Homo sapiens: one gene and its partners. The protein of the gene in region 2 purifies or fractionates together with the protein of the main gene of each other region. This does not show direct contact. Each region holds a gene or a part of one and is shown on either strand. Other genes may lie near its edges.

What was found.
Region 1: the proteins of IFT80 (region 2) and IFT52 purify together in Homo sapiens (affinity purification with mass spectrometry; 2 studies listed by BioGRID and IntAct, with this or other methods). This does not show direct contact.
Region 3: the proteins of IFT80 (region 2) and IFT57 purify together in Homo sapiens (affinity purification with mass spectrometry; 5 studies listed by BioGRID and IntAct, with this or other methods). This does not show direct contact.

What each region holds. Positions count from the first base shown.
Region 1 is NC_000020.11:43,642,937-43,647,841, forward strand, and holds the end of IFT52 (intraflagellar transport protein 52 homolog), read left to right. Parts: intron 1-3,999; coding exon 4,000-4,047; 3' UTR 4,048-4,363; downstream 4,364-4,905. UniProt on the Homo sapiens protein: Involved in ciliogenesis as part of a complex involved in intraflagellar transport (IFT), the bi-directional movement of particles required for the assembly, maintenance and functioning of primary cilia. Required for the anterograde transport of IFT88.
Region 2 is NC_000003.12:160,256,486-160,263,225, reverse strand, and holds the end of IFT80 (intraflagellar transport protein 80 homolog), read left to right. Parts: intron 1-4,590; coding exon 4,591-4,701; 3' UTR 4,702-6,240; downstream 6,241-6,740.
Region 3 is NC_000003.12:108,219,383-108,226,752, reverse strand, and holds the start of IFT57 (intraflagellar transport protein 57 homolog), read left to right. Parts: upstream 1-4,328; 5' UTR 4,329-4,430; coding exon 4,431-4,642; intron 4,643-7,180; coding exon 7,181-7,343; intron 7,344-7,370. UniProt on the Homo sapiens protein: Required for the formation of cilia. Plays an indirect role in sonic hedgehog signaling, cilia being required for all activity of the hedgehog pathway.

The DNA.
Region 1 (4,905 bases), on a different chromosome or scaffold from region 2:
TAGGCAGATCACCCGAGGTCAGGAGTTCGAGACCAGCCTGACCAACATGGTGAAACCCCCTCTCCACTAAAAATACAAAAATTAGCCGGGCATCATGGTGCGTGCCTGTAATCCCAGCCACTCAGGAGGCTGAGGCAGATGAATCACTTGAACCCAGAAGGCAGAGGTTGTGGTGAGCTGAGATCGTGCCGTTGCACTCCAGCCTGGGCAACAGTGAGACTCTGTCTCAAAAAAAAACAAAAAAACAAAACAAAACAAAAAAAAAACAGCTGGGTGTGGTGGCTCACACCTGTAATCCCAGCACTTTGGGAGGCCGAGGCAGGTGGTTCAGCTGAGGTCAGGAGTTTGAGACCAGCCTGGCGAACATGGTGAAACTCCATCTCTACTAAAAATATAAAAATTAACCAGGTGTGGTGGTGCACGCCTGTAATCCCAGCTACTAGGGAGGCCGAGGCAGGGGAATCTCTTGAACCCAGGAGGCGGAGGTTGCAGTGAGCCAAGATGGCACCACTGTACTCCAGCCTGGGTAAGAGAGTGAGACTCTGTCTCAAAAAAAAAACAAAAAAATAGAGCTGGGTAAGAGGGATCAAGTGTGCTGAGTGTGGCCATGATGACTGGTGAGTATTAAATAGGGAGATCAGGGTGGGTTTCATTGCAAAGTTGTATTGGAGCAAAGATTTGAAGGTGTTGAGAGACTTAGCCATGCAGATATCTGGGGGAGGAGTGTCCCAGGCAGAGGGGAGATGTGTGCAAAGTTCCTAAGGCTGGGCTGTGCCTGGTATGCTTGACGAACGGCAGTGATGCCAGTGTGACAAGAGAACAGAGGAAAGGACAGAGCAGTAGAACATGAGGTGATCACCTTATGTAAGAAATGATTTTCTCAGGCCGGGCACCGTGGCCCACACCTGTAATCCCAGCAATTGGGAGCCCAAGGCGGGCAGATCACAAAGTCAAGAGATTGAGACCATCCTGGCCAACATGGTGAAACCCCATCTCTACTAAAAATACAAAAATTAGCTGGGCGTGGTGGTGCATGCCTGTAGTCCCAGCTCCCATACTCGGGAGGCTGAGACAGGAGAATTGCTTGAACCTGGGAGGCGGAGGTTACAGTAAGCCAAGACCACACCACTGCAGTCCATCCAGCCTGGCGACAGAGCAAGACTCTGTCTCAAAAAAAAAAGAAAAAGAAATCATCTTTCTCTGACTGAGGACCAAGAACTTCAAAATTATCCCTGGCCTTCTTTTTTCCAAGGATTTCAAAAATTGAATGCCCAACCAGCTTTGGTAAATAGGCATTCATACACTACTGATGGAGAATAAGTTGGTTCCACTTGTCTGGAGATATTTTTATAATACTGTTGAAAAGCCCTAAAATGTATATACCGTTGACCCATTCTAATCTTCAGAATTTGTTTTAATAATATAATTCGGAATACGTACAGATTTATCAACCAGGATTCTCAGTGCCACATTATTTTATAGAAGAAAAATCTTCATCAATAGGGAACTGGTTAAGTATCCTAGGGTACATCCATAAGATAAAAAATGTTTTTAAAAATGTTTGGCCAGGAATGGTGGCTCACGCCTGTAATCCCAGCACTTTGGGAGGCTGAGGCGGGTGGATCACGAGGTCAGGAGTTCAAGACTAGCCTGACCAACATGGTGAACCCTCCTCTCTACTAAAAATACAAAAATTAGCCAGGTGTGGTGGCGTGCACCTGTAGTCCCTGCTACTCAGGAGGCTGAGGCAGGAGAATTGCTTGAACCCGGGAGACAGAGGTTGGCAGTGAGCCAAGAACGTGCCATTGCACTCCAGCCTGGGAGACAGAGTGAGACTCTATCTCAAAAAAATAAATAAAAAATAAAAATAAAAATGTTTAAGGACTTGGGCCAGGCGCTGTGGCTCACATCTGTAATCCCAACACTTTGGGAGGCTGAGGTGGGCGGATCACTTGAGGTCAGGAATTCGAGACCAGCCTGGCCAACATGGTGAAACCCCATCTCTACTAAAAATAAAAAAATCAGCTGGGTGTGGTGGCCCGTGCCTGTAGTCCCAGTTACTCAGGAGGCTGAGGCAAGAGATTCGCTTGAACCTGGGAGGCGGAGGTTGCAGTGAGCCAAGATTGCACCACTGTACTCCAACCTGGGCAACAGAGTAAGACTCAAAAAAAAAAAAGTTTAAGGACTTGGGAATACATTCGTGATACAGTAAATATGTGGTGGGGAGAGACTAAAGAACAGTATATAGAGAGATTCTACTTTCTTTACAGAATACAATACACACATAGAATTATTTTGCATAATAAAAAAATAACATAAAGATATTTATCCTTGGGGCCCAGTGCGGTGGCTCACGCCTGTAATTAATCCCAGCACTTTGGGAGGCCAAGGCAGGTGGATCACGAGGTCAGGAGATCGAGACCATACTGGCTAACACAGTGAAACCCCGTCTCTACTAAAAATACAAAAAATTAGCCGGCCGTGTTGGCGGGTGCCCATAGTCCCAGCTACTCAGGAGGCTGAGGCAGGAGAATGGTGTGAACCCGGGAGGCAGAGCTTGCAGTGAGCTGAGATCATGCCACTGCACTCCAGCCTGGGTGACAGAGTAAGACTCTGTCCCCCCCAAAAAAAGAAGATATTTATCCTTGGGCTGGGCACAGTGGCTCACGCTTGCAATCCCAGCACTTTGGGGGGCCAAGGTAGGTGAATCATTTAAGCCCAGGAGTTCTAGTCCAGCCTGGGCAACAGAAACTCCACATCCATAAAAAAATACAAAAATTAGCCAGGTGTGGTGGTGTGCACCTGTAGTCCCAGCTACTTGGGAGGCTGAGGTGGGAGGATCATCTGAGCCTGGGGAGGTTGAGGTTGCAGTGAGCAGTGATCATGCCACTGCACTCCATCCAGGGTGATAGAGTGAGACCCTGTTTAAAAAAAAAAAAAAAAGATAGTGTTTAATTTTTATTTTCCTTCTTTATTAAAATTTCTATAGTGGGCCGGGCGCGGTGGCTCACGCCTGTAATCCCAGCACTTTGGGAGGCCGAGGCAGGAGGATCATGAGGTCAGGAGATCGAGACCATCCTGGCTAACATGTGAAACCCCGTCTCCACTACAAATACAAAAAAAAATTAGCCGCGCGTGGTGGCGGGCACCTGTAGTCCCAGCTACTCGGGAGGCTGGGGCAGGAGAATGGCATGAACCTGGGAGGCAGAGCTTGCAGTGAGCCGAGATCACGCCACTGCACTCCAGCCTGGGTGACAGAGCGAGACTCGTCTCAAAAAAAAAAAAAAAATTCTATAGTGACTGTGTCACTTTTGCAGCAAAAAAAGAGTGTTTTGTTGTTTAATGTAAGCAGGCAAAATTCAAGCTTAGGATTTCAGATGCTGAGTGGAAAGACCAATTAGGTTCTGAGCCTCTCCTGGAAGGAAGCTGGCTGTGCCGGATGCTCATTTGGCAGTGTTTTACTCTCCACGTCTAGCATGGTGCTGGAGGCTGGGGCCATAGCAGTGAACAAGATGATTGCGGTTCTTGCTGTGCCTCTCAGAGCTCTGTGTAGTGGGAGACAGAAGTGTATTGGCAGTTACCGTGGTCTAAGTGCCATCCATGAAGGGAACCCAGAGATGAGGGTTTTGATGTGGCTGCTCAGCAGTGAATGATGGGATGGGAGGTCAGGTAGGTTCCCAGCAGTACTCACTCTGGTGGCATGCTAGGACAGACACCCGAGGCCAATATAAGAAGTCTGGTGTGGTCTTTGCACCAGTGCTTTCAACTCTGTTTGTTACTCATCATGGTGGGTGGTGGGCAGTGGTCACAAGCCCTGCCATGGTAGGGCAAAAGGATCAAAATTTGATCCTTGGGTTGGATTCAGCCCTAAAGCCAGATATTATGTATATGTCCTAATTAATAAAGATTCAGAATCTCTAAAGTCCAAAGCACTGAAGAGTTTACATTTCAGGCTTTATACTGAAATACTAAAATTCTGTGTCTTATTCTCTCATCCAGGAACATGACATCGATACAAGTGAAACAGCATTCCAGAACAATTTCTGAAGACCATGCCTCTTGAAGCTTTTTCTGCCTCCTGATTCTCTCTTTGTAAACTATTTTCAAATTGTTTTTCAACTCCTTATCAAAATTGTTTATACACTCTTTCCTCCATGAGCTCTGGAAGGTATATGCATCTTCTGTAATACTCAGATAGGTATAAGATTTTTCACAAAATCCTTATGTAAGATACATTCCATTTTTAAAAATTAAATGTATGGTTGCATCTGTCTTTTTATACCCTATGAAACAGTCTTGATTTTTTTTTCTCAACCCCAGTTCTGGATTTGAGTCTTTTATCAAAGACATAATTAACTCTCAAGCTTGTTGTAAATACTGTACAGCTTTCTGGACCGGTTGAAAGGATACAACAGTGGCTGGACACGGTGGCTCACTCATGTAATCCCAGCACTTTGGGAGGCCGAGGCGGGCGGATCATTTGAGGTCAGGAGTTCAAGACCAGCCTGGCCAACATGGTGAAACCTGTCTCTACTAAAAATACAAAAGTTAGCCAGGTGTGGTGGCATGTGCCTGTAATCCCAGCTACTTGGGAGGCTGAGACAGGAGAATCACTTGAATCTGGGAGGCAGAGGTTGCAGTGAGCCGAGATCACGCCACTACACTCCCGCCTGGGTGACAGTGAGACTCTGTCTCAAAAAAAAAAGGGGGGGATGGGAGGCTAGGTGCAGTGGCTCATGCCTGTAATCCCAGCACTTTGGGAGACCGAGTTGGGTGGATCACGAGGGCAGGAGATCGAGACCATCCTGGCTAACATGGTGAAACCCCATCTCTACTAAAAGTACAAAAAATTAGCCGGGCATGGTGGCACACACCTGTAGTTCCAGCTACTCGGGAGGGTGAGGC
Region 2 (6,740 bases):
CTGGGGGTGGGAGGAGAGGTGGTGAGGTAAGGCAGGGCATTTGAGAATGACTTCAACATTTCTAGTGTGGGCAGCTGATAGATGGGAATGCCATTAATCTAAAGAATACATAAGAATATACACATTTTGGACCTTTGAGTTTGAATACATGAAAATATACCATTTTGTATGTGATTAGAGTGTCTATCAGGTGTCCAGAAGGAGGTATCTAGCAGGCAATTAGAAATATAAATATGAACACAAAAGGACATTGACAAGGGAGAAATAAGGGCTAGAAAACTAAATTTATTGCCTTGACCATCTAGGTATAGTTGAAGCTATATGAATTGATATTTCTTAGGGAAAGTGTTAGAAAGCTATGGTTGGACCCTGGTGAATATTAACAGTTAAGAGGTTGTTGAAGGAAACCAAAATATGACACCCCAAAATATGTCTCTTTGACACTTATATTTTTGAGCTAAAGACAAGCTGCAGCAAATGGAAGAGCTCTATTCTCCCCCTTTTCCTCCTAAAGACAAAATATAAATTCTCCTTTACTAGAGACAACTCTTGTCAGCTCAGGGACGACTCCAGAGCAATCTACCAAAAAACCTTACTCCGTGGCTGGGCGTGGTAGCTCACCCCTGTAATCTCAGCACTTTGGGAGACCAAGGCAGGAGGATCATGTAAGCCAAGCCCAAGAGTTCAGGACCAGCCTGGGTAACAAAGTGAGACCTTGTCTCTAAAAAAATTTAAAAAATTAGCCAGGTGTGGTAGCATACACCTGTGGTCCCAGCAGGAGGTTGAGGCTGCGGTGAGCCATGTTTGGGCCACCACACACCAGCCTGGGTGACAGAGCAAGACCCTGTCTCAAAAATAGAACAAACCTCACCTGATTAGTTTCTTCCCATATATTTTTTTCCCATGGTTTCCAATCTCTGGAAGCCTAAAACTGTTTTCACTTCTCTAAAAACAGTCTTGTCACATCTTTAAAATTTATTGTTCTTTGTTGAAAATGCTATGTAACCCAGAGTTCCAAGACACTGTTTTGAGTTACCTTTCATTGAGATTTCTCCTGCTGTGATGTACACTGCACATATTATTGAACCGGCTTGTTTTTCTCTTTTCACCTATCTCTCCCATCAATAAACTTACAAGCGTTGAGGAGAAATTATATTTCTTCTCCAACATTGTCTAGGGAGCAGAATATAGGGAAAAAAGAGAGAGAAAGAAAGAAGCAGCATTTAGAAAGGAGAGCAGGAGCCAGAAGAGAATGGTATTATACAGTCTTGAGAGATTTTTCAAAGAGCAGTGGTCAGCAAGGTCCAGAGAAGGCTCTTATTCCAGGGCCGTCCGTGTACTTCTGCATGTCACCATGCCCTTCTCCAGATATACACATGGGTCTCACTCATCTCCTTCAGGTCCCCCTTTTTTTTTTTTTTTTTGAGACAGGGTCTCACTTTGTTGCCCAGGCTGGAGTGCAGTGGCACAATGACAGCTTACTGTGGCCTCAACATAGCCAGACTCAAGCGATCCTTTCACCTGAGCCCTCTAAGTAGATGGGACTAGAGATGAATGCCACCAAGCCCAGCTAAATTTTTTATTTTTTTGTATAGACAGGGTCTCACTATGTTGCCCAGGCTGGTCTTGAACTCCTGGGCTCAAGCAATCCTCTTGCCTTGGCCTCCCGTGAAGTAAACTGATGACATTGCAACCTCCTATTCTATTCCTGGTGCTCACTATCTCCCTTCTCTATTTTCAAAATCTTTACCGCTTCTGGCATACTAGATATATTTTTTGTTTTGTTTATTATCTGCCCTTTCCATTTTTATCTTTGTTTATTATCTCTCTATGAAGACAGTGATTTCTATCTTTTTGTTCACTGGTGAATCCTTGTACCTCAGACAATCCTTGATATATACTAAGCACTAAATATTTGTTGAATGAAAAATTGAATCATACAGAGAAGGTATATAAGATAAGGACTGAAAACAGCCGAAGGTGGTTTTAGTGCAAAGTTCTTAAAGTGTCACAGGATCAGAATTATAGTGGACAGGGAAGAGAATGAGAGTCAGGAATGAGAAGAAGAAGGATGGTAGCTTGCAGGGAGAAGACAGCATAGAGAGCCAAGGATGATGAGAGCGAGTCAGTGAAAAGAAGGACATTTAATGTGTGAGGAATAATTGAAGTCAGATGTCCTAGAGGAGTCAAAGAAAATGGAATCAGAGACATATGTTAAGAGGTTGGCCTGAGACGGAAGAGAAAGATAATGATGGGTGTAGATACAGGTAAGTTCGTGAATGCAAGGAAGGAAAATAAAGTGAATTCATACCTCATGGCCACTATATTCTCTGTAAAGTAGGAAGCTGATCTTCAGCTGAGAGGAAGAGAAAGAGAAATGTGTTAGAGGATGGAGAGCCTTTTGGTATGATTTTGAAATTGCTTATAGGTGACTAAGAATTGGCTAGCGAGTAGAATAAGGAGTGCCAGATAATATTGGCAGTCCCTATACTAGCAAAAGATGGATTTTAGTGTAGAAATCACTTGACAACTATCAGAGAACATTCTTATCTAAAACCTACTATTAAAAATATTCTAATCCACGAACTAAATTATCTGTAGAACACTTTTTAAAACTAGATCAATGCCAAAGCGAAAGTGAAACATTTATTTTCAGTAGGACAGCTATCCACTGACACCCTGATTTGTATTATAACAAATAACTAATACAGATATCATCAATTTACTTGCAACAGAGCAGCAGTTGTTCAGTATATTATCAATGTATGGTTTTATTGTGATTGATTTGAGAAATGTATGTAAGTCAATTTAAGGCTGGAAGAAACCCAAAGCATCCATCAAGTTTCGTCTTCTCTATAAGTGTTTTGTTAGACATAGAAATGAGTGCTTTGCCGTTTAAAAAATATCAGATTTTGCCCTGATTGAAAAAATGAGTCTTTCAAATAATCTAACATCTGCTTGGCTTTTCAATGAGCTGTCACTTGCATCTTAGCACAGACATTTGTCTTCTATGAGTGAGAGGAATTCGTTTATTAATTCATCTATTTTATGTATTATACATAAGTATATGGCATTGTTATTTTAAATAAAGGTGAGCCAAAATATTTACAAATTGCTTCACAGCAATTCAGGTATGGGATATTGGAATTAAAAAAAATACTTAATTTCTTTAACCTCCAGCATAAAAGAGGCATGAAGTCCTATTAAAGTTAAATTAACCCCTCACTTACTTAAGCTAAATCTGTTCAAGCAGACTGAGATTACTTCATTCTGCTTTAATACTACTTATTCCATTCAACTCCCCTAAACAGAGGTGAAAACCTATTCACTTTTGGCCCAGACTCAGGGGTTTGGATTTATTTCCTGTAAATCAGAGTTAGTTTAATCTATGACCCAATTTTTTCCATGTCTTGCCTCAGAAAGGATAAACATTCCTAAATTAGTGATCTCCAAACTTTGTTAACTGGTAGAATGTGCTTTCCTAAAGAAGTTGCTCATAGAACTCAGGGGCAGAGTCTATTCCTAACAAGTCTAATGAACTTAAGAGAGGAATAGGGCTGGGCTAGGGGAGGGGAGACTGCATAACGGATAGAAGGGAAGCAAACAAATAAAAATGTTTGCACTTTGCAGTTATTCTTTTCATGTGTTTCCCAGTCTTGCTTTCCCTTCGCTTTCTCTAACATCTTTTCCTCATTGTCTTAATGACCACCATGTCTTACTTTAAGAGTTGGTGCAAAGGAGCCACTTTCACAGAATATGCTTAGGGGAAGCTAATGAATCCCTGTCTTTCCTCATAACTAGGCTTCCAGTGGAAACTGCAGTATATAAGATGTGAAGCCTATTTGAAAAATGGCTTGGTAACCAGAGTCCGGTCCACTTTTTCCTCGTTTGGAAGACAGCGGTCCATCTCATCCCCTACCTTGTCCCTGAGCACGTGTACACAATCCTAAGGCTCCATGGGACTGTTTAGATGTACCTTTATAAATAGCTGTGACTAGATTTTGGTCTTTTAAATCACAATGAGAGTCTTTGCTTTTTATTATATAATTCTTATTTTTTGGTCTTATTCTTAAAACTACTTTGTGGTTTTTGAGCATTATTTGTTTTTGTTTTTTTTGAGACAGGGCCCTTGCTCTGTCACCCAGGCTGGAGTGCAATGGTGCAATCACGGCTCACTGCAGCCTTGACCTTGAGGGCTTAGTTGATTCTCCCACCTTAGCCTCCCTAATAGCTGGGACTACAGGTGTGTGCCACCACACCCAGCTACTTTTTTTATTTTTTGTATTTATTTTCCCATCTCGGAACTTTGCCATGTTGCCCAGGATGTTGTCAAACTCCTAGACTCAAGCAATCCACCCACCTCAGCCTTCCATACTATTGGGATTACAGGAGTAAGCCACTATGCCTGGCCAAGCATTATTTCTTCTTCTTAACTTTGATGCTCTCTTTTTCTCTAATCTTTTGATGCTCTCTTTTTCTCTAATCTTTTGGAAGTCACACAGTCTATCTGTTTACTCTTAGTTACTTTGGAGTAAACAAAAATGTCTTACACTATCTAAGCATATTTCTTCTTTTTTTTTTCTATTGCAGCTCCAAATAGATTGGGAGAAAATCAAAGCCAAAATTGAGATGGAAATTACAAAAGAAAGAGAGCAATCATCAAGCAGCCAATCCAGCAAGAGTATAGGTTTAAAGCCCTAAATGCCATGCGTATCTTTAAGAAATTTTATCTTTTGAAACACGTTCTGATTAACCAAGGGTAAGCATGTTTTGGTTGCTAAAGAAAAAAGCATAATCTTTAACCGAGTATAAGTACTTGCTGTGTATTTAGTGTAAAAGTACATGCAGAAAGATGAAACACAAAGTAATTGATGTATTTCTATCTTTTATATTTTTTAGTCCAATAATTAGCAAAATATTACTATGTACTTAAGAGATACCTGTGTAGTGTCGATTATATGTCAGTTTTTTGCCCATTACTTCATCCCTAAATCTTCAGCATGAACAAATATTAATGTCGATAATAAAACATTGGACTCTTTGAAATGTATGTTACCATTAATTTCTATTTGACCTCTAAATTGTAAAATGCCTCCAAAAGTTTATTTATAGAACAAAAATACATGAGGATGGATTTGTACAAATGTATAAAATGCCACTATTTATACACCAAGTTCATAGCAGCATTACTGGAATAGCAAAAGATGGAAACAGCTCAAGTGTCTATCATGAATGGATAAACAAATGTGCTATAATACATACAATGGAATATTATTTAGCTTTAAAAAGGAATGAAATTCTGATAAATACTACCTCAGGATAAACCTTGAAAACACTATGCTAAGTGAAATAAGCCAGACACAAAAGGCCAAATATGATGCCACTTTTATGAGGTACCAGCATAGGCAAGTTCACAGAAACAGAAAGGAGAATAGTGGTTGCCAGGGACTGCAGGGAGGAGGAAATGGGGGGTGGGGTTATTGTTTAACGAGTACATAGTTTCTGTTTGGGATGAACAAATTCTGGAAATGGATAGCGATGATGGTTGCTCAACATTTTGAATGTTAATGCCACTAAATTGTACCCATAAAAATGGTTAAAATGGTAAATTTTGTTATGTATATTTTATCATAATTTAAAAAATATATCTAGAATGGGCAAGAAGGATTCTCCTCATTCCTCTCTTGACTTGAGAATGATCAGTCAATAGGCCCTGAAGTCTGAATTTGTGAAAATTTCCTTGGGTGACAAACTTGTTTGATTACTCTATTTAGTGTATCCCAAAGTTATTACCACATAATCTTTTAAACAATAAAACAAATACCCCTTAGAAAGTCTTCTGCAAACCCATTTCTGAAAATGGTACATTATAGGGTGGGTATAGATGCATAGATATGGGATTATGTATGATATATATATATATACACACACACACAAAGGGATAGAGAGATTACCTCTCTTAACCCCCATTTTAATTACTATGTCTAGGTTTTTTAAATAAAAATCTTTTCTTTTTAACATGTTTCTTTTCTTTTCCGGAATATTGGAATATTCTGTTCTTGATCCAGATGAAATCTGATTGAGCAGTGTACTTACAAGTTGTACTGTGTATGTGTTTCCTATATTGTTATATTTCAATAAGAAGCTTAAAATGTTTAAAAATAAATGGTTAAAAGGTTTTATGTTATGTATATTTTACCACAATAAATGCAAAAAATAAAAAGTCTGTGTTCTAAACAATTCTCTCATATCCTAGAATTCAATCCAATTCTAACACTAACTACCTAGAATTAGAAACAGATCCCACAAGTTAAAGGGCAAGGTTCCCAAAAAGACTGCCTTTATTTATTTATTTGTTTATTTATTTTTTGAGACAGGGTCTGGCTCTGTCACCCAGGCTGGAGTGCAGTGGCCCCATCACAGCTCACTGCAACCTCCGTCTCCCGGGTTCAAGCAATTCTAGTGCCTCAGCCTCCTAAGTAGCTGGGATTACAAGTGCCCACCACCACACCCAGCTAATTTTTGTATTTTTAGTAGAGACAAGGTTTCACCATGTTGGCCAGGCTGGTCTCAAACTCCTGAATTCCTGACCTCTAGTGATCCGTGCTCCTCGGTCTCCCGAGGTGCTGGGATTACAGGCATGAGCCACCGCACCTGCCCTAAGACTGCCCTTATTTTAGACTCCAGCCACAATCAGAGTCCCCAGGCTACTCACACTTGTGTCTGACTTGGCTGCACAT
Region 3 (7,370 bases), about 52 Mb from region 2:
GTAATTCCTACCTCAGACTTCTTTAAAATTTATGCTTACATATGAATTTCAGAATAGCCCTCCTGGAATTATAGTTGAAATTATGCTAAATTTATAGATTGGGCAAATATGCTGACTTTTCTCATTATAAACATTGTATTCCTATTTGAATTTTTCCAAAACTTTCAGTAAAGTTTAACAATCTCTCTATAAAGATAATGATAGGTTTGTTCCTGGGTGCTGTGTGTTGCTTATTATGAGGTTTGTTTTTCTAACTATCATCTCCAGTAACTTTTGGGGTTTTAAGTGCTTTTAATTCAAAATAGTCAATAGAATACTATGCATCCAATAACTCTTTTTAGTTTGGACCTCATATATGGCAAACTTGCTGAGCTATCTTAATAGCATGTCTGTAGATTCTCTTGGATATTTTAATTAATCACAGCAACTGCAATAGTTACTCCTATCTTTTTGTCTGAGTGCACTGGTTCTGGTCTATAGGGCAGTTTTGAAGAGGTAATGTAAATTGCTTTACGAGGCACCGCTTTTAAAGATTTACATATAAATATGATTTTTTTCCTTCTAGATTTTTGGCAGACACTTTTGATGAGGTTGAATGGGGCTTAGAACATGCCACCCCAAAATATGCTGCTGTTGCATACTGATTATTGTGATATGAAGGCACCTGCGATACAGCAGATATATGAAGGGCTCTCTGACCTTCCCCTTCCTACTTAAAAGCAAGTCATAAAATTTCCCATGAGAAAGAAGCCATCCCTGTACCAGGAAATAACATTTTTATGATGGGAGCCTGGAAATTAATGCTAAAATGGGTCTGCAGAAACAAACCTATTAAAATAATCTTTATCTTCCACTAATTTTACCCATATTTTTCCTAGTCACTTGTCTACAGTTTGTCAACCTTAAATCCCTTTTCCTTTGTCTTGTCACTTCCCTACAAATGTATCATTCTTTGTTTTCTTTAAAAAAAAAAAAGGCATATAAGCTGTTGGTCCTATCCGCTTCATTTTTCTTTTGAATGCTCCCATGTGCATGTAAAAATATTAAATAAAATTTGTGTGCTTTTTTCCTGTTTACTTGTCTTATGTTCATTTAATTCACAGGCCCAGCTATTGAACCAAAGAGGGCAGAAAAAGTTTTTCCTTCTCTATAGTTTCAAGGAAGATTTATTCAGTTAGCGATTTTCTAAGTTTTTAACAACCCAAATGGGTGGTACTAAGCCATTTATAACACAGCACAGCTTTGTTCTTTAAGCCTACCCAGTTTGCCTGAAGGATTTGCTCTTCTATTTGAAGGTGCAGCTGGAAAGCCTTCCTCCATTCTAGAATCTGCCTCCTTTTCACCCCCAGCCTTGCTAAGCACCTTTCAGGGAAATCCATTGAGCTTAAATTGGCTTTGACTGGGATACTTTTTTTTTTTTGAGACAAAGTCTCATTCTGTTGCCCAGGCTGGAGTGCAGTGGCACCATCTCTGCTCACTGCAACCTCTGCCTCCTGGGTTCAAGCAATTCTCCTGCCTCAGTCTCCTGAGTAGCTGGGATTACAGGCGCCCATCACCACGCCTGGCTAATTTTTGTATTTTTAGTAGAGACGGGGGTTTCACCATGTTGGCCAGGCTGGTTTCGAACTCCTGACCTCAAATGATCCGCCTGCCTCAGCCTCCCAAAGTGCTGGGATTACAGGCATGAGCTACCGTGCCCGGCCTGGAATGCTATTTAGTTTTCAGAGTTTCACAGAAAGATCCACGAGTTTTAAAAAGCTGAGGCAGGGGAACCGCTTAAATCCAGGAGGCGGAGGTTGCAGTGAGCCAATATCGTGCCATTACACTCCAGCCTGGTGACAGGGCAAGACTCCGTCTCAAAAAAAAAAAAAAAAAAAGTTACTTTCAATTACCTCACAGATAGTTTGAAAGAAATAAAAGTCAAAGTCAGAAGGCCAGCTATTAATAGTGGCGAATACAGTAAAACCAGGGATGAAATTGAGATTTTACAGGAAGAATGAACATGGCTCATTCTCTTCAAGCTCTAACTCCTTAGTCAACAAATAAACTAGTCCTGCAAACCAAAACAACAAAAAAAAACCTGATACAACTGTATTCCCCAAAGTTTCCAAGTGGCTGAAACAGCTAGAAGAGGATTTGAGTGCATTTTCACACACACGAAGAAAACTATCAAGGAAAAGATCTTTTGATGTGTTACAAACTATTACAGGTAAACAAGGAATCAGCAAAAATAATCCCTGGGCTTTACAAAACAATGAAATTTCAGTGTTCTTTCTAAAACTTTTTATTGGGGAAACATGCAGTATTGAACAGTTAGCTTTTTTGTTCTCTTTGTGCCACAATTACTGGAAATACTTTATATTTTTGGGTTTTTTTCTTCTTCACAATTAAGGGGGGAAATTATTCTGTATACTGCTTTCAGGCCAGGCTGTGTCAGTATTTTACCTGGGAAGGAAATGGCTAAGACCCTGGGAGTCGTTTTGTTTCCCCCAAGTTAAAATACATACGTTGCTGGAGGATTTATCAGCTAAAAAGCAACGTTTGACTATTTCATACTGTGTTACGTAACTTCCTGAAAATGTCAGAACATCTTAAGTAGGCAGCATGCCTGGCAGGAACATCTCCCTCCCTGAGTGTAATAAATTTACTTCCAAAGTCTGAGAGCTTTTTCAGAGTCATGTAAAAAGCCCCAGTTTGCTTGTTAGTTAACTTAGGACCCCAAAACATATCTAAGCTTTCATTTTTCAGTCTTATAAAGCCATACATCTATCTTACACTACTGTGACTGTTATACATACATATAACACCCCCAAGCTGCACATGTGGTGGTGGTTGGGGTATGGACTTATCGGGGAGAATCACTGTTTCAAAAAGGCAAAGACCAGGAAAGATCAATTTGGTAGTGGGGTAACATCAAATCCAATTTTCTCACTCAACTTTATTAAAAGCAGCTGGCTCATGACTTGTGGTAGGCAAGCAATGTTATTTATTTAAAAAGCAATTCTCAGTGGGCTGCCCTTCAGGTTATTCTCTACATAAGTCTGTAATTTTATGTACTTCCTTTCTTTAATGAAAAAATGGTATTTGCCCTTCTGACTTTTCACTTTGATAACCTTATTAGTATCAGAAACAAGTTAGCTGTAGACGGATTACAATGAAAAGTGTTCTCATTTTTTCTAATAAAAACAGGATATTGTAGATACATTTCAAATTTCAGTTGTCCAAAAATGTAGCCCTTCTATATTTTGTAGTGGCAGATACAAGAGATCAGAGAGCCCTTAAAAGTCACGTTATAAACATGAACATATGTTCAATCTCTTGTACTAAGTTTTCTTCCCAAAAACTGCCAGGCATCCACCACTTACCTCATTTTTTGCAACTGTTAAGAAAATTGCCTAATACAGAAGCCTTTTGAAAACTGTAAAGCTGGGCCATTTCTGTGGTCAGTTATGTACCTTTTCTTAAATTTTCTAGGTCAATAACTGCAGAATACAGTAGTAACACCCTATCTTTAGCCACCCTTAGAGCTTTAGGGCAGGGAAATTCCTTTTAAGACCATCTCTATTCTGTTGGATTTAACGAAGTACCCAAACACTTTATACTACATGTAATGGGTTTGAAACAGATTAAGCAGCAGGATGGAAGCTTAGTATTCTTGTTTTTGAAGTAAAACAAATCCTTCCAAATGCCTCCTTTTGTTCATTGTCTTCCTCATCCTTCCAACCACTTTCCTAGCACTGGAGTAACAGCCAGGCAACGTAATACAGTACTTCAAGCTTTACAATATACTGTTAAGTGCAGCATTGCCTAGTGAGAGAAAGATAAAATTAAAGAAAGAACGAGAGAAACCTCTCGTTGGAAAGTTCCTGCAGTAAAAGTGAAACCTATGGTATTGACTATCTTTACAACTATGAAAAACTTTTCAATTCTGAGAAAATAAAGGTATCAGTGAGCCAGTGCAGCCTTCAGTGCTACACGTCTTCACCTCCCTTTAATCTTTTTAACAGCTACTAGCTGACCCAGATGCCCGCTTAATTGCTTTTAGCAACCACCAGGTCCAACACACCTCAAGCCAGCTCAAGACTCACTAGGCAAGCGGAGCAGAAACGTAAGCCGGCTCCCTTCAGACTTTCAGCGAGGGAGAAGACGCAGCCGGCAGTGGGGCGCGAACGCCACGCCTCCATGAGGGGCGGGGCTGCTTCCCGACCACCATTTCCACAGAGGCAGGGCAAGAAGAGGGCCACAGGTGACGTCATTCAGGAAAGCCGCCCTGATTGGAGGGAAGGAGGCGGAGTCTAGTTTCCCTGGTGACGGATTGTCCGGTGGTCGCCTGGTAACCGGTCGTGGCTGTACTGGCGGCGGCAGGGCTGGCGGCTTAGGCCGCAGAGGTCTGTGGGCCTGAGCCCACGCTGGACTCTGTCCGTTCTGCGATGACTGCTGCTCTGGCCGTCGTCACGACGTCGGGTTTGGAAGATGGGGTGCCTAGGTCCCGTGGCGAAGGGACCGGGGAAGTGGTCTTGGAGCGGGGGCCCGGCGCGGCCTACCACATGTTCGTGGTGATGGAGGACTTGGTGGAGAAGCTGAAGCTGCTCCGCTACGAGGAGGAGTTCCTCCGGAAGAGCAACCTGAAGGCCCCGTCCAGGTGGGTGCCGGCGTCCCCGAGCGCCCGGGTGCCTGCTAGCCCCCAGGGAGATGCCCTCCTTGGTCCTGCTGGGAACCAGTTTCGTGAGAGCGGGTTAGCAATTCCTTGCCTCCGTCTTCCTAGCCAGGGAAGGGCACTTCACCCCAAACTCCCGGGAGGTCCGTGGAGCTCACGCAGCCCTGACTTGGTATTTTTGTAGAGAGAATAAATAAGTTTTGGAACGGCAGAAAGGATCGGAAGACAGCTTGCCTGTTTTTTTCCAACACACACGCATTACCAGAAAACACAAACTATATTTTCTGATTGTAAAGATGAAACAAATACTCATTGAAGAAAACTCAGAAAAACACAAGTAAATGTCTAGAAAAATTATAAGACCGTCCAAAATTCGCCTCCAGAGAGGAATGCCATTATCACTTAAGGCTTTTTTTCTAGTTTGGGGTTTTTTGTTGTTGTTTAAGACCCTGTTCATACAACTGGGGACCGTGGGTACTTAGGATCCTGTTAAGGAGCACTTTAAATGCGGTTAGTAAACTTGTTAACTACTTGCTATGGTTTAAAAGACTTCTGCCTTTGTAATAACCATACTCTCAGAAACTGAAAAGTGGAAAAGACGAATGACAACTATTGAATTGTCCCCCTATCATAGAACCTAAAGTTTTACCCTTGTTCCGGTGGGGGAAAAGTCCAACATATCCTGAAAGCAATGCCATTACTTGCTGAGGGTAGTGGTCAGCTAGGACCTTCTCCTCAAATCACTGTAGCTTAGCAGTAGCCAGATAAATCAGTTTTATAGCTTTTCTTTCACTTTAATACTTACATTTGTATATTTTATTCCATAAAAGGCAATCAGTATTAAGAATCTATAGTACTTAATGTCTACAGCCAGGCTCAAATAATTTCCCTTGATAGTTTTAATCTCATTCCACTGCTGTCTTCCAATAACTTGAATTGAAAGATATGTAGGCTTGATATAAACTGTTCATATTAAATTAGTCCATGGTCGGAGAAAAGATAAAGGAAAAAGTAGTGTTGCTTGATCCATGTTAGAAAAGGTAGTCCTGGGATTATTACTTAAAGTGAATTGATCAGGATAATATAGACAACCAACATTTCCTATGTTAATAAAAATGCATTTTTTTCCAAGTATATTTTTAAAATGAAAACAAAATGTCCTTAAGGTTCTGTTGATGTCATCTCTTGCACTGTGTCCTCAGGGGTTCAGCAGGATACTTTGAATCATGGATTTGTGTGGGGATATCCTAGTCCAATGGTTCTCAAAATGTGATCACCAGACCAACAGCATCAGCATCACCTGGGAACTTACTAGAAATGAAATTCCTCAGGCCCTTTCCCAGGTCTACCTTTTCAGTAATTATAGGGATGGGGCCTAGCATCTGTTTCAGTAAGCCTTCCAGATGATTCTGATGGACACTAATGTTTGGGAACCACTGTCCTAGGTTTACAGTATCTATTGGTGTTCATTCCTCTGCCCTAGAAGAGTTATCTGCCGATAAGGAAAAGATGACTTTTTGGTGGGTGGGTGCTTTGAAAGGATAGTGAGCATATACCTGGAAGGACTTCATGGCCTTTTTTCTTCCCAGCTTTCTGTTATCTTCCAGAACATTTACATTTATCCTGCAGGAAAAAGTTTGGGAAACATGAAGGAGTACACGACAGATTTTTATGACAATGGTTATAATAGTTGTAAATACATTGTAAACATAATAATGATAGCTACACATGAACAAGACAAATAAGATCTTTGATTAAACTGACTTGAATGTTGTTGCTAGTGAGTTTTATTCCTATAATGTTTAGGTATAAATCATACTGATCCTCGTAGAACTGTGTTTAGTAGACTAGGGGATTAAGCAAGAGCCCACAGATGTTTGACTGGTGATGTGACATTCACAGGTTCTTAATCCTGACTACACCTTATAAACATGTAGAAATCTTTTGAAATATACCCCATACTGGGCCTACTTTCACTGAAGTTCTGATTTAATTCATTCATGAGGGAAGAAGCAATGTTTGGTCAAGTACCAGTATTTTTATTAGCTCCTCAGGTGATTGAATATGCAGCCAACATAGAAACAAATGTTCACCATAGGTGATAGGTTAGAAACAGTAAAAATGCATAATGAGTAATCGTTGAGGTCTTTTTTAAACTCTGAGGTTCTTCCAGATTACCATTTTCATTCATAAGGTACTTACATATTATTACTGACACTTAAATCATTTTGGCAAAAATTCTACATGCTCTGTGCTCTAACATGCACTACATTTCCTGGGTGTAAGGTCTTTGATCTAATATTTTGGGTACAGTAGTAATTGCCCTAATCCTGCTGATTTAAAAACTTCAATGTGAGTGCTGTGGATTACTGGAAACTTCAAAGGGTGAATTATCGAGGTCTTTTGATGGCCATTTGGGGGGAAGAAAGATTGTTGGACAATTGTGAATTCGGCCCTATTAGTTATTATAGACTTATTTGCATTATTTCACATCCGCCCCCATTCCTCCTTGTTTTGAAACAGACACTATTTTGCACTGCCTACCAACCCTGGCGAACAGTTCTACATGTTTTGTACTCTTGCTGCTTGGTTGATTAATAAAGCGGGACGTCCCTTTGAGCAGCCTCAAGAATATGATGACCCTAATGCAACAATATCTAACATACTATCCGAGCTTCGGTCATTTGTAAGTGTAAACGACCCTTCTTTTTCC